Homo sapiens: one gene and its partner. The protein of the gene in region 1 interacts with the protein of each later gene in a pairwise test. Each region holds a gene or a part of one and is shown on either strand. Other genes may lie near its edges.

Region 1 (7,036 bases):
AATACACTGCTGTTCTGTGGAAATATACTGTTCCACAAAGTATGCAGTGCTGATGTACTTGCCATATGGCAAACAAATTATATAGTCATTCAATACAGATAGCAGTTTCATTGTCAAATACATATTTGATGGCAAGAATAAGACTAATTTTGTCATCATAGCATAAATGTTTTATTATATATTATTTATAAGCCACATACTTCTTGTTGTAAAGAAGATTTCCTATTATAAAATCTTGCAGATCAGCAGAGGTAGTTGTCATTATATGGGTATGCTTCACTTTGGTAAGTAGACAAGTCCCTAAGGCTTGTAGATCAGAGCTTTCTTAAAAACGAATTACTTTGTTGATTGCACCCCTGCACTCCAGCCTGGGCCACAGAGTGAAACCCTGTCTCAAAAAAAGAAAAAAGAAAGGATTACTTTGTAAGTGATCCAAGGAACCTTGAGACCAAGTCACACCTTAACCAGTTAGTCTGTTTTTCAGATTTTTGACAGTGTTGCAGCTGAGGGTTGGAAGTGGGGATAGAAGTTGTTTGAATATCCTGCTGCCTTCTCCTAAGTAGATTTAGTCTAACAACTGTGGTGAAGAATAACTTACCCTTTTCTTTATTCCACAGATAATTTTGGTAGATGTAAGAACTGTGTATTCACTGTGCCTTTTCCTTGGTACCTCAAAATAGTGTGTAACTTTATGCAAACTAATGGAGAAATGGCAGTGCTTTTGTTGAAACGCTGAAGTATATTTATAAATTTTTTTCTGGCAAGAGTTAATAACTGCAGCTCTTTTATCATATGTCTAGCATTAGGACTGCCAGCCCTTTGAAGATCACCAATGAGTTCTTGTATTCACTTGGCTGATTTAGAGTAATGTAGGTTTTAAAAACCATTTCAAAATGCTTGAAAAACAGACATCATAAGCATGGATTCTTTATTGCCTGTCAATAGCTGAATAATGAATTATATGGGGTTTTTTTTTTTGCAAGAAATAGTGACTTCTTAAGCATGTTCTGCATTCTTAAATATGGTCATTTCAGCAGGAGAAATGCTGTACCTTAATCTGAGATCTCAGAAGGCACTTTACTGAAGAGAAATAGATGTGTACATATGGGTTTTTGCTGGATTTGTTAATTTGGGGAAGACAAATATTTTATTGATGATTTTGAATTTTAAGAGCTTTTTAAATTCACTTTTAGCCTGACCTTCCTAGTAAGGAATAATTTTATTTTATTGAAAAACACCAATATCATGACCATTAATCATAATGGAACATCATTTAGAAGACTGGAGATTGATATGTTTTTATTACTCAGAAATTTGAGGGATGTGAATTAAACATAGCATCATTCATCAAATCAAATTGGTAATTCTTAGCTTTTGTAAATTGATGGTTCAGTTCCATTCTTAAGAGCATATTTTCTAGAGTAGCCTCATTCTTTTATTCTTTGTTTTTGCAGTTGAAATTTTATTAAACAATAGTGACTTTTGGTTTCATTCATTTGGAAACCTTGATATAATCTTGTTTAAAAAATATAGTTTTATTTTTTTATAATTATATTTTGAGAAAATAAATAGTCAGCTTTTCTCTCTTAGTATAATGCCTTTCATAATCCTTTAACATGCCTATTAACAGATACGAAAACCGGTGAGGTCCAAACATTGTGGTGTGTGCAACCGCTGTATAGCAAAATTTGATCATCATTGCCCATGGGTGGGTAACTGTGTAGGTAAGTTGTATTAGTAATTTCTTCTGTATCATTCATTTAAGTTACTTTAGGTAATGAATAAAGTATAATATTAAAGTAGGCAATAGAAAGTTTATTACTCCACGCTTCATTTTCTCAGTTATCTTCTGGTTGACAACACAGCAACTCAGTTGAGAGAGGGAGGGAAAAAAATTACAAAATTAGTGGCTGATACCTTTTCTCTGTCAGTTCTATCTGGTGCCTACTCTTGATAAGGAGGCAAAATTTTTTTTTTCTAGTTAAACTAGAGAGATGAAGGCGGTAATATTTGAAATGATATTATGTGCAGAGGTAGAGAGGAATGACAGATAAGAACAGTACACACATTAGTGTTCAAGAATGGTATAGTCTAAGGAGAGAAACTACATGGTTTGAGACATGCCCCGGAGATTTTATGAGGTGACAGGAAACATTACAAAGATTGTTTACCTCTGTTGAAGAGAAACCTTTGGATTGTAAAGTTTATAAAAGTAAAGATAAAATAGGGCTATTTTAAACCTCACAAAGAATAGGATTAGAGGTCAGAATTGTGATTTATTTAGTTCTTTGGGACTTGAACACCATTGTCATCATTATATCTTTGTGTGTAATTGCAAGCATTCTTATTTAAGATTTTTATTAAAACATTTTTCCTGAAAACCACTTTATAAAATAATGAATGTATGTGTGATTATCATCAAAACTGTAGCACACCTTTCATGGCATACCCCTCAAAGGTGCATTACCCGTTGTTTTTTTCTTAGCTGAAAAACCTTGCTTCTGTGTCGTTCTTCAGGTGCAGGCAACCATAGATATTTTATGGGCTACCTATTCTTCTTGCTTTTTATGATCTGCTGGATGATTTATGGTTGTATATCTTGTGAGTACAATTAGTTTTCGGTCTTTTTAAAACAAATTTCTGCATACTTAGATTATACTTACCACACTAACAAATTACTATAATGACAAAGGTCGTTTAACTAAAATTATGGTTTGGACACCTTATGAAGCACAAAAGGGAAAAAAGATACAGCTCTATCAATTATGTCCAATATACAGTGTAAGCAAACAGTTAGCAGTTAACCACCTTTTAATACTTGTGTCCTCTGAAAAACATATTGGTTTAATAGGCTTTGAGAAGCTTCTGGGTGAAATACATCAACATTTTCCACATCATGTGCTTGCTTTACTATAGTAGCTTATAGATTAAGTGATTGTCTTAGTTCTGTTTCTTACCAAGCAGTTGGGAAAATATACTTAAAATTAAATTTGCAGAGAATTTGAAATATTTTGAAAAGTAAGGTATAATTATTGCCTATTAGAGAATATTAGTAAATATCAGAAGTTACCTTTTTAAGAATAAGTTGTTATTCCATCATGTGGGTTTTATACCTTAAAGGAAATGATAGATTTTTGTTGCATTGAGAATGCAGTCTGGAAAGAGTTTAAGTGGATACGTCACTTACGATGCCTCAGGGCTTGGTGGTGCTTGGCATAAAGATGTATTAGATCCTCGTTTAAATACAAGTCTTGGAAGGATGATTTTCTAGTCTTCCTGCCCCACAGATAGTAAAAATAATCAGTGTTATTGCCCTAATGAACCAAAGGAGGTTACCACCTCAGTTAAAGATTAATAGGAAGATTTGGTCAAAGAACTTGACCTAATTTCTGGCCCAGCACACCTGAGGAGAATACTTTCTTGCCAACAACAGCAGTATTTTATAGCAACTCTCCTACAGCAGGAGATTTTGTATTAGGAAAGGCCTACCTTGGCTGGGCATGGTGGCTCATTGCCTATAATCCCAAAACTTTGGGAGGCAGAGGCAGGTGGGCCAGTTGAGGCCAGGAGTTTGAGACCAGCCTGGGCAACGTAGGAAGAGAGACCCCATCTCTACAAAAAATACAAAAATTAGCCCGGTGTGGTAGCGCATGCCTGTAGTCCCAGCTACTCAGGTGGCTGAGGTGGGAGGATTGCTTGGGTCCAGGAGGTCGAGGTTGCAGTGAGCCTTGATTGAGCCACTGCACTCCAGCCTGGGTGACAGAGCGAGACCTTGTCTGGAAAAAAAAGCTCATGTCACCATCCTATTATGTTATATGCCCTCTTTCAAAAAAATCTCTTTCATATATCCTCTCATCTTTGTGTAAAGAAAATGTTTTTCTAAGTATTATGTGATGCAATACCAATCAAATAAAATTGTTAATTCTGAAGATACAGTGATTTTTTTTTAAGATTGGCTGCTCCTTTTCCATTTCTGTGTTTTTTCACTGAGATATAATAGGGTTATTTAAGAGTATAAAGACATTTGCTATTGAATGTCATCAGTTAAATCTAGACTGTTTGACTATGTTTTCTAAATGGTGCCAGCACAAATGCCTATATGAGGTGCTTGGATGATTATTGAGTAAATACGAGTACTTCTGTTCTGGCTTTAGACTGGGGACTCCACTGTGAGACCACTTACACCAAGGATGGATTTTGGACATACATTACTCAGATTGCCACGTGTTCACCTTGGATGTTTTGGATGTTCCTGAACAGTGTTTTCCACTTCATGTGGGTGGCTGTATTACTCATGTGTCAGATGTACCAGGTATGTGCAAAGGCATTCTTTTTAGTGCACTAAGTGAAAACTCTTCCATCCTTGCATAAAAGATAATAATATATTCTCTTCCTAACCACTCCTGCTCTTCAAATATTCATTTTATTTTTCAATTTAGTTTTCCTTTCTACCTCACTCTTTTGCCCCTTCCTCTTCTCATATTGTGAACTTTTGAATTTTAGTACTTATCTCAACAGAAATTTTAATCTGTTATTCCTGACTTAAATACATCCAGTTGAGTATGTGTGAGCTCAGATTGATGATGACATTAATTTTGTGTTTTTAATGGTATTTTTATTCACAAATACTAATATTTATTCAAAAGCCTTTTTTTAATTTTTAAAAGCTCATTCTCAGAGAGGCTGATAGGGAGGTTGTCTGTGCAGGAATAGCGCCTGTCCATGCACAGTGTCAAGTAACCTGTCTTTAAATATTTTCCACATTTAACTGGCTACTTTTCACAGTCAAATGATACCACGTAAACTAGTTCTGATGATCTCCTGATGGAAAACCAAAAACAGACTTCATTGTTTTTATCTTTATCCTAGTTTTCTTCAAATTAATTTTTTTATATTAAGTATTTAGAAAGAATAATGGTTTGTGCAGCCTGGCATGGTGGCTCACACCTGTAATCCCAGCACTTGGAAGCCGAGGTGGGCGGATCACTTGAGCCCAGGAGTTTGAGATCAGCCTGGGCAACATGGTTAAACCCTATCTCTAAAAAAAAAAAAAAAAAAAAAAACCCAACAAAAAAAAGAAAATTAGCCGGGCATGGTGCATGCGCCTGTAATCCCAGCTGCTGGTGGGGTGGGGGTTTTGGGGTGGGGGGAGGTGGCGGGGGTGGAATCACTTGAGCCCACCCAAGAGGGAGCTGAGAATTCGCCATTGCATTTTAGCCTGGGTGACAGGGCAAGGTCCTGTCTCAAAAAAAAAAAAAAAAAACAAGAATAATGGTTTGCTTTTTCTTTCCTCTTAGATATCATGTTTAGGTATTACTACAAATGAAAGAATGAATGCCAGGAGATACAAGCACTTTAAAGTCACAACAACGTCTATTGAAAGCCCATTCAAGTATGTACATATTTATAAATTTAATATTTTACCTGGTCATAAAAATTTTCTTACTAACCAGACTCTTTTACTTAGTGATATGTAAAATAGCTTTTAAACCTTTTTAAGATTTCTGTAGAAATAGCATCAGTTCACCATAATAACAACAAAACAGAATTCATCACATTAACTGTATATAATAAAGTTGTGATATCTCCTTATATTTTTTTCTTTTTAATTTTAAATTTGTATTCAGTCTGGTGCTTAGAAATAGTAGGGTCCTAAGTATATGAAATATTTAAAACTTTGAGTTTTACTGAAGTTATTACCAACTCTTCAGCTTTTGTGGTGCTGTCAATTATGGCATACTTCTGGAAAGCAAGCAGACCTTTAAATAAAAACAGAGTTAGTTGGGTAGTTTTGAGAATTCTCCCATAGGTACAAAAATTATATAAGGCACAAAACTGACTGCTTTTCTTTTCTTTTTTTTAGACAGAGTCTTGCTCTGTCACCCAGGCTGGAGTGCAGTGGCATGATCTCGGCTCACTGCTACCTCCACCTCCTGGGTTTAAGCACTTCTCTGCCTCAGCCTCCTGAGTAGCTGGGATTACAGGCATGCACCACGCCCAGCTAGTTTTTGTATTTTTAGTAGAGATGGGGTTTCACCATCTTGGCCAGGCTGGTCCTGAACTCCTGACCTCATGATCCACCCGCCTCGGCCTCCCAAAGTGCTAGGATTACTTACCGACGTGAACCACTGGTGCGCACCTGGCCAAAACTGACTGCTTTTCTAAAGGTGTTACTGGAGTACTAAAATTTCATGAACTTATCCTTGACATTTCTTTTTTAAGTTGTTATCCTTAGGTTCACTGCCAGATTCATGCTATTTATAATTATTTTGTCTTTTACTTTTTTTCTGTTTTAGAGATAGTTTGTCTCCTGCCAAAGAGCCACTAATTAAAGGTTTTTATCAAAAATTACATATGGAGCCAGGCATGTTGGTGCATGTCTGTAGTCCTAGCTACTTGGGAGGCTGAGGTGAGAGGATTGCTTGAGCCCAGAGTTCGAGGCCAGGCCGGGCAACATAGTTAAGACCTCATCTCTAAAAATAAAAATAAAAATGCATATAACACAGAAAGTATATGCACATTTGAATAAATTTAAAATATAATTGTGTAAGTCTTTAAATTGGCAAAAGAAAAAATCATTGTTGGCAGAGCAGTGGAGAAACATGAAGGCATATATATTTTATAGAGTTATGAATTGGTTCCTTCTTGCAAGTAACCTGAGTTTTTAAGTTTAGAAAAAAATATATTTAACACGAAAATTATATTGAATTCATGTATTAAATCATTTGTACTGACTGACGTGTTTTCTTTTTGGGGTGCTGTTTTTAGCCATGGATGTGTAAGAAATATTATAGACTTCTTTGAATTTCGATGCTGTGGCCTCTTTCGTCCTGTTATCGTGGACTGGACCAGGCAGTATACAATAGAATATGACCAAATATCAGGATCTGGGTACCAGCTGGTGTAGCGACATCTTATCCTATGAAGCATATTGCTGAGTGGTGCCTGAAAATTGTGTCTGTCCGTGTCTTTCTCACACTCGAATCCACATCCTTTGAACAAGAGCATGCTATGTGTAGGGCTAATGGTGAATTTT
Region 2 (7,036 bases), on another chromosome or scaffold:
CAAACTTCTGACCTCGTGATCCGCCCACCTCAGCCTCCCAAAGTGCTGGGATTATAGGCTTGAACCACCACACCCGGCCATTGTTTTGTTTTAAAGGGAAGGATAGGCTGGCAATTCTTTTTGTTTTTTCCTTTAATGGAAACAGTCTCACTATGTTGTCTGGGCTGGTCTTGAGCTCCGGTACTCAAGAAATCCTCCTGCCTCGGCCTCCCAAAGTGCTGGGATTATAGGCATGAGCCACTGTGCCCGGCCTGAGCTGGCAATTTTTAAAGATAGAATAGCATCATGAATTTGGCCTGTGATCAGATTTTTTTTTCTACATATTTTGGAATGCTAAAATTCTGTGTTCTTTCCTAGTCTCTGGAAAGTACGAGGAGAATCCTGGGTTTAGCCATTGAGGTAAGAAAATGTTAGTCATCAACTTAAGTATAGAAATTTATAGGAGCGATCCTAATACTTCTGGCTGGAATTAGTATTAAAGGGTAATGTATCAATATGCTTTATTATTTGAAATTAACAGTTGCTGAAATGTCAAACCATGCACTAATGGGAATTTTCTGTTTTTCCCTTTAACAGTATTGGAATATGACAGGGAAGATGAATTCACTATGAGTTTGTGACTTAATTATTTTGGGGGCTGCTATGTTAAAGTGTGTTAGTTTAAGAATACTAGTTCTGTCTGTAGCTCTAATCCTCTGAGAGCTTGGGTTTCTAAATTATTCTGTGTTGCTCTTGTAGGTTTTGTTTCTGTTGTTTTTGGTTTGTTTTGTTGTACTATCAGCTTTTCCCCCCTTGTCTTAGTCTCAGGATGCAGGAATCAAGACCATCACTATGCTGGATGAACAAAAGGGTAAGTTAAATTATTAGCAGAAATTCTTAATTTGACTGTGATGCCAAAAAGCCCTATCAAATTAGCCACATACAAATTTCAGCCTTTGGGAGAGCCTTCCCTTTGTAAAATAAGAATGTTATGTTTACTTCTTGTCTTCTGATTTGAATTATATATCATGTTCACTGTCTATTTGGGATGGCAGGCAACAATGCCCAATTGTATATACCAAGTATGTGTTAGGCCAGCATGGCTTATTTTGTGTATTGGTTATATGTGCCTTAGACATTATGATAGTAACATAGCTGGGATTACAGGCACCTGCCACCACACCCAACTATGTTTTTCTTTTTTTTTGGGGTGGGGGACGGAGTTTCGCTATTTTTGTCTAGTTTTGGGGGTGGGGGATGAAGTTTCGCTCTTCTTGCCCAGGCTGGAGTGCAATGGCGTGATCTTGGCTCACTGCAACCTCCTCCTCCTGGGTTCAAGTGATTCTCCTGCCTCAGCTTCCTGAGTAGCTGAGATTACTGGTGCCCACCACCACACCCGGCTAAGTTTTTGTATTTTTAGTAGAGACGGGGTTTTACCATGTTGGCCAGGCTGGTCTCGAACTCCTAACCTCAGGTGATCCACCCGCCTTGACCTCCCAAAGTGCTGGGATTACAGGTGTGAGCCACCGTGCCGGGCCTTTTGTTTTGTTTTGTTTTGTTTTTTTAATTTTTATTTTTTGAGTCGGAGTCTTACTCTGTCACCCAGGCTCGAGTGCAGTGGTGCAATCGTGGCTTACTCCAGGATCCTCTACCTCCCACGTTCAAGTGATTCTCCTGGCTCAGCCTCCTGAGTTGCTGGGATTACAGGTGTCCACCACCACACCCAGCTAATTTTTTGTGTTTTTAGTAGAGATAGGGTTTCACCATGTTGGCCAGGTTGATGTCGAACTCTTGACTTCAAGAGTCACTTGATCCGCCCACGTCGGCCTCCCGAAGTGCTGGGATTATAGGCGTGAGCCACCGTGTCTGGCCAGACATTGTGATATTCTTACATCATCCTCAGAAATCAAGTTCTAAAACAGATCTAGATTCAGGTATGCTTGGAAACACTTGAGTTGAGTTGGCCCTGAGTAATCAGGTCTAGTTTTTATTACTCTTATAATAGCCCTCAGGTTTTGAACCTATTATAGAAATGATGGGGATTTGACCTCGTCAAAGTACCCTTAACTTGGTTGTAAGGATGATCTCTAAATAACCGTCCCTTGGTCCTACTATACAAGATTCTTTTTTTTTTTTTTTTTTTCGAGCGGGAGTCCCACTCTGTCATCCAGGCTGGAGTTCAGTGGTGCAATCGCAGCTCACTGCAACCTCCAACTGCCGGGTTCAAGCAATTCTCCTGCCTCAGCCTCCCAGGTAGCTAGGATTACGGCACCCATCACCACACCCAGCTAATTTTTGTATTTTTAGTAGAGATGGGGTTTCACCATGTTGGCCAGGCTGGTCTTGAATTCCTGACCTCAGGTCATCGCCCACCTCGGCCTCCCAAAGTGCTGGGATCACAGGCGTGAGCCACCATACCCAGCCATATACAAGCTTTTTAGAACAAATTTTTCCACAGCAAGAGGCTAGGTGCCTCCGGATCAGTACGTGAAAGATTGTTATCATGTTGAATCGCTTCTAATACCTTTTGACACTGACATACTCACTGTGGGGAGTTATTGGTAGATTCAAGGTTGAAGTTTGCTGTTCCATAATAATAGCATTTTCTGGTTGACACTGTGAATGGAACACAAAGTGTTAACTTCACAACTTATTCTTAGAACAACTAAACCGCATAGAAGAAGGCTTGGACCAAATAAATAAGGACATGAGAGAGACAGAGAAGACTTTAACAGAACTCAACAAATGCTGTGGCCTTTGTGTCTGCCCATGTAATAGGTGAGTTGATAAATTAAGATGGTTTCAAAATAAGTAATGAGAGTACCCCACCTTCTCCCACCAGCTAAGGTCAGAAGTATGACTGGGCTTAATGAGGAACTCTATTAGATAAATCTAAGTTGTCTCTCCTTCAGGCAGATTAAGCTTTTTGTGTAAATACTGCGTGTTCACTGAAAACTGTGACTTACATTTGACCAATCCTGGGATCAAGTCCAATTTCAATTTGTAGTAATACATGAAAAGGTTAGGAAGTATAGGGAAATGTATATCTGGATGATGGAAAGCAGGATGGAGTTATTTTCTTTTCCTTTCAAAGGAGGAGTATTAACAAAATATATATTTTGTGGTAGGCACATGAGGGATGGCCAAAAGAGTAGAAGAGTTGGGAAAGAATGGCAAAACATAAAAAATACATAAATCTAATGTTAGATTATATGATAGTGAGCAAGGCTAAATCTAATGTTAGATTATATGATAGTGACCAAGGCTAGGTATACAGAACTGATAAAGGTTGGGTTGGAGAGCATCTTATAGAAGAGGTAGGATGTGGATTGGGCTTTGAGTGATAAGAAGGATTTGGATGAACAGGGAGGAACAGTGAGGGCATTTCCTATGAAAGGTTCAAAATAAAGATTAACAAGGAGCTTGACTTAACTGAGCTGTGTGACTCATGTAGATGAGAAGTGGAAAGTAAGATATAAGTAGGTAGTAGAGGAACTTGAATGCCAAACTAAGGAGTTGACAGATTGGAGTGGAGTATAAAAAGAAACGACAGTATCTGGAGATTGAATGACTGTACTCACTGCTGAAAGTTTTGTTTTGTTTTTTTTCTGAGACAGGGTCTCTGTTACTGAGGCTGGAATGCAGTGGCGTGATCACAGCTCACTGCAGCCTCTCTTTCCTGGGCACAAGAGATCCTCCCACCTTGGCCTCCCAAAGTGCTAGGATTACAGGCATGAGCCACTGCACACAGCCAAAGTATCCTTTTTTTTTTGAGACGGAGTCTCACTCTGTTACCAGGCTGGAATGCAGTGGCGCAGTCTCAGCTCACTGCAACCTCCGTCTCCTGGGTTCAAGTGATTTCTCCTGCCTCAGCCTCCCGAGTAGCTGGGACTACAGGCGCATGCCACCACACCCAGCTAATTTTTGTATTTTTAGTAGAGACGGGGTTTCACTATGTTGGCCAGGATGGTCTTGATCTCTTGACCTCATGATCCGCCCGCCTTAACCTCCTCAAGTGCTGGGATTACAGGTGTGAGCCACCACACCCGGCCTCAATGTATTCATTTTTAAAGAGGTTCTTAGACATTAATATTTCATCCAGTTCTCAGCTGGTCTTGTAAACCAACAGCGGTTATATTTTTATATTTTCAGTAAGTGTTTTTATGAAACAACATTTTTATGCCATTTCTGTTATAGAAAGTAGAGATTAATTGCTTGTCAGTCAACTTTAGTGTTTGTTTTGGCCATGAGGAAAGGTTTGACAGTGTTCTTCCTAGTCTTATCCATTGGCTTCCTATTCTAACACAAGTCTGTTGACCTGTTTACACCTTGGTTGACCAACTGAAAGTTCTGTATTTTTTGAGACGGAGTCTCGCTCTGTCACCCAGGCTGGAGTGCAGTGGTGTGATCTCGGCTCACTGCAACTTCCACCTCACGGGTTCAAGTGATTCTCCTGCCTCAGCCTCCCAAGTAGCTGGGATTACAAATATGTGCCACCATACTCAGCTAATTTTTATATTTTTAGTAGAGACAGGGTTTCGCCGTGTTGGCCAGGCTGGTCTCAAACTCCTAACCTCAGGTGATCTGCCCGCCTCTGCCTCCCAAAGTGCGGGGATTACATGCGTGAGCCACTGCTCCCGGCCAAAAGTTCATATTTTAATAACTATGACTTGTCAATCAGAGTTTAGCAGATTACTTTAAGCAAACAAGTTAAAATGTACAGATTATTTGATACAAACTCTTAGCTATGTTTTACAAACATAATTGTACCTTTCTCTTGTGTTCCATGTACCTTCTTGGAAGAGTACAGAAGAGAGGAAGTAGATGAATTTTCTTGAGATCAGATGTTAGGAGAACAAGGAGAAAGAAGTCTCCCCTAAAATCTTAGAGGAAGATCAGCTCTAAGTCACGTGTTGATAAATAGGAAGAGCACTGAATTAGACCTAAGATGGTCTAATATCATAGAAAGTGGGAAATGCAGCTACAGAGTATTAATTTTATGTCTCTTTGTGTATCCCAGCCAAGCATAGGCAAGCTTTTCTTGAAGACTGGTGGGAAACAAGGTAGGGTATGGTCCTGAATCAGCATTCTTCAGCCTCTAACCTCAGTAGAACCCTTTCTCAGTGGATCAAGAGAAGGCATTACTTTTTTAGAGATGGCCTCTCCCTCTGTCTCCCGGGCTTGAATGCAGTGGTGCCACCATAGCTCACTGTAGCCTCAAACATCTGGGCTCAAGCAATCCACCCACATCAGCCTCCCAAGTAGCTAGGATTACAGGTGTGTGCCACCATGCCCAGCTAATTTTTGAAATTTTTTGTAGAGACAGGGGTCTTGCTATGTTGCCCAGGCTTGTATCAAACTCCTGGCCTCAAGAAATCCTCCCACTTCAGCCTCCCAAAGCACTGGGATTACAGGCTTAAGCCACTGCACCCAACTGGCACTTCTTTCTTTTTTTTTTTCTGGCACTTCTTGAGAGATGGAATCAAGGGGCTGCTGTAACAAAACAGTTCCCTTAAGAGAAGAAAGTATTATCTCAGTTAAAGATGTCTGATTGTAATTGTCTTTCTTCCACCTATTTCTTTCTTACACCATTGAGACCTTGGCCAGTATGATATCTCTTATCCTCAGCTCTGTTCCTATCATTCTTGCCTGTGTCTTGATCTTTCTAATCTGCTAGTCTGTGTTTCAGTTAGGCTCGTCACATGAATAACCATAACATGAGCTTCTTAAAGGTAGACATGAGATCTTAGTCCTATGTGTAAGGCCTAGTCTTCATACCAGCAGTAGCAGTAACAACCCAGGTCAGGTCCAGAGTTCCTTATTTGCCATTTGGAAATACTTTTTCTTTTCTTTCTCTTTTTTTTTTTTTTTTTTCTCGAGACAGGGTCTCGCTCTGTTACCCAGGCTGGAGTGCAGTGGCAGTCATGGCTCACTGCAGCCTCAACCTATCCTCCAGCGTCAGCCTCCTGAGTAGCTGGGATTACAGGCACATGCCACCACACCCAGCTAATTTTGTATCTTTTGTAGAGACAAGGTTTCACCATGTTGGCCAGGCTGGTCTTGAACCCTTGGGCTCAGGCAGTCTACCCACCTTGGCCTCCAGAAGTGCTGGGATTGCAGGCATGAGCCATTAAGCCCTGCTGGCCATTCAGAAATCTAAAAAACTCCTAAAGTTTTGTTTTATTTTTGCTGTAATGGTGCCACAACTCATTAGGGTATAAAATGTAACCTGAACTGAAGCTATGTTTAGTCTTTATTACTTGCTGTAGATATTAATTGGTTTCACTACAGAAATACTCTTTTTGAGTCAGGGTCTCACTCTGTCACCCAGGTTGGAGTACAGTGGTATGATCTTGGCTCACTGCAGCCTCGACCTCCTAGGTTCAAGTGATCCCCCCACCTCAGCCTCATGAGTAGCTGGGACTACAGGTGCATGTCACCATGCCTGGTTTGTTTTTAAAAACTTTTGTTTCTTCTTCTTTTTTTTTTTTTTTTTGAGACGGAGTCTCACTCTGTTGCCCAGGCTAGAGTGCAGTGATGCAGTCTCAGTTCACTGCAACCTCTGCCTCCTAGGTTCAACCGATTCTCCTGCCTCAGCCTCCCAAATAGCTGGGATTACTGGTGCCTGCCACCACGCCCAGCTAATTTTTGTATTTTTAGTAGAGATGGGGGTTCACCATGTTGGCCAGGCTGGTCTTGAACTCCTGACCTCAGGTGATCCGCCTGCCTCGGCCTCCCAAAGTGCTGGGATTACAAGCATGAGCCACCATGCCTGACCCTGTTTCTTTTCTTTTCTTTTTCTTTTTTTTTTTTGAGACAGAGTTTTACGTTGTCACCCAGACTGGAGTGCAGTGGTACAATCTCGGCTCACTGCAACCTTCGCTTCCTGGGTTCAATCGATTCTCATGCCTCAACCACCCAAGTAGCTGGGATTAGAGGCATGCACCAACACCTTGCTAACTAATGTATTTTTAGTAGAGACGGGGTTTTGCCATGTTGGCCAGGATGGTCTTGAACTCCTGACCTCAAGTGATCCACCCACCTCGGCCTCCCAACG

The links.
Region 2: the proteins of ZDHHC17 (region 1) and SNAP23 interact in binary tests that used the Homo sapiens proteins (3 or more experiments, as listed by UniProt).

The regions. Positions count from the first base shown.
Region 1 is NC_000012.12:76,844,079-76,851,114, forward strand, and holds part of ZDHHC17 (palmitoyltransferase ZDHHC17), read left to right. Parts: intron 1-1,630; coding exon 1,631-1,724; intron 1,725-2,517; coding exon 2,518-2,601; intron 2,602-4,154; coding exon 4,155-4,312; intron 4,313-5,297; coding exon 5,298-5,392; intron 5,393-6,768; coding exon 6,769-6,907; 3' UTR 6,908-7,036. UniProt on the Homo sapiens protein: Palmitoyltransferase that catalyzes the addition of palmitate onto various protein substrates and is involved in a variety of cellular processes.
Region 2 is NC_000015.10:42,512,598-42,519,633, forward strand, and holds part of SNAP23 (synaptosomal-associated protein 23), read left to right. Parts: intron 1-357; coding exon 358-399; intron 400-801; coding exon 802-850; intron 851-2,639; coding exon 2,640-2,757; intron 2,758-7,036. UniProt on the Homo sapiens protein: Essential component of the high affinity receptor for the general membrane fusion machinery and an important regulator of transport vesicle docking and fusion.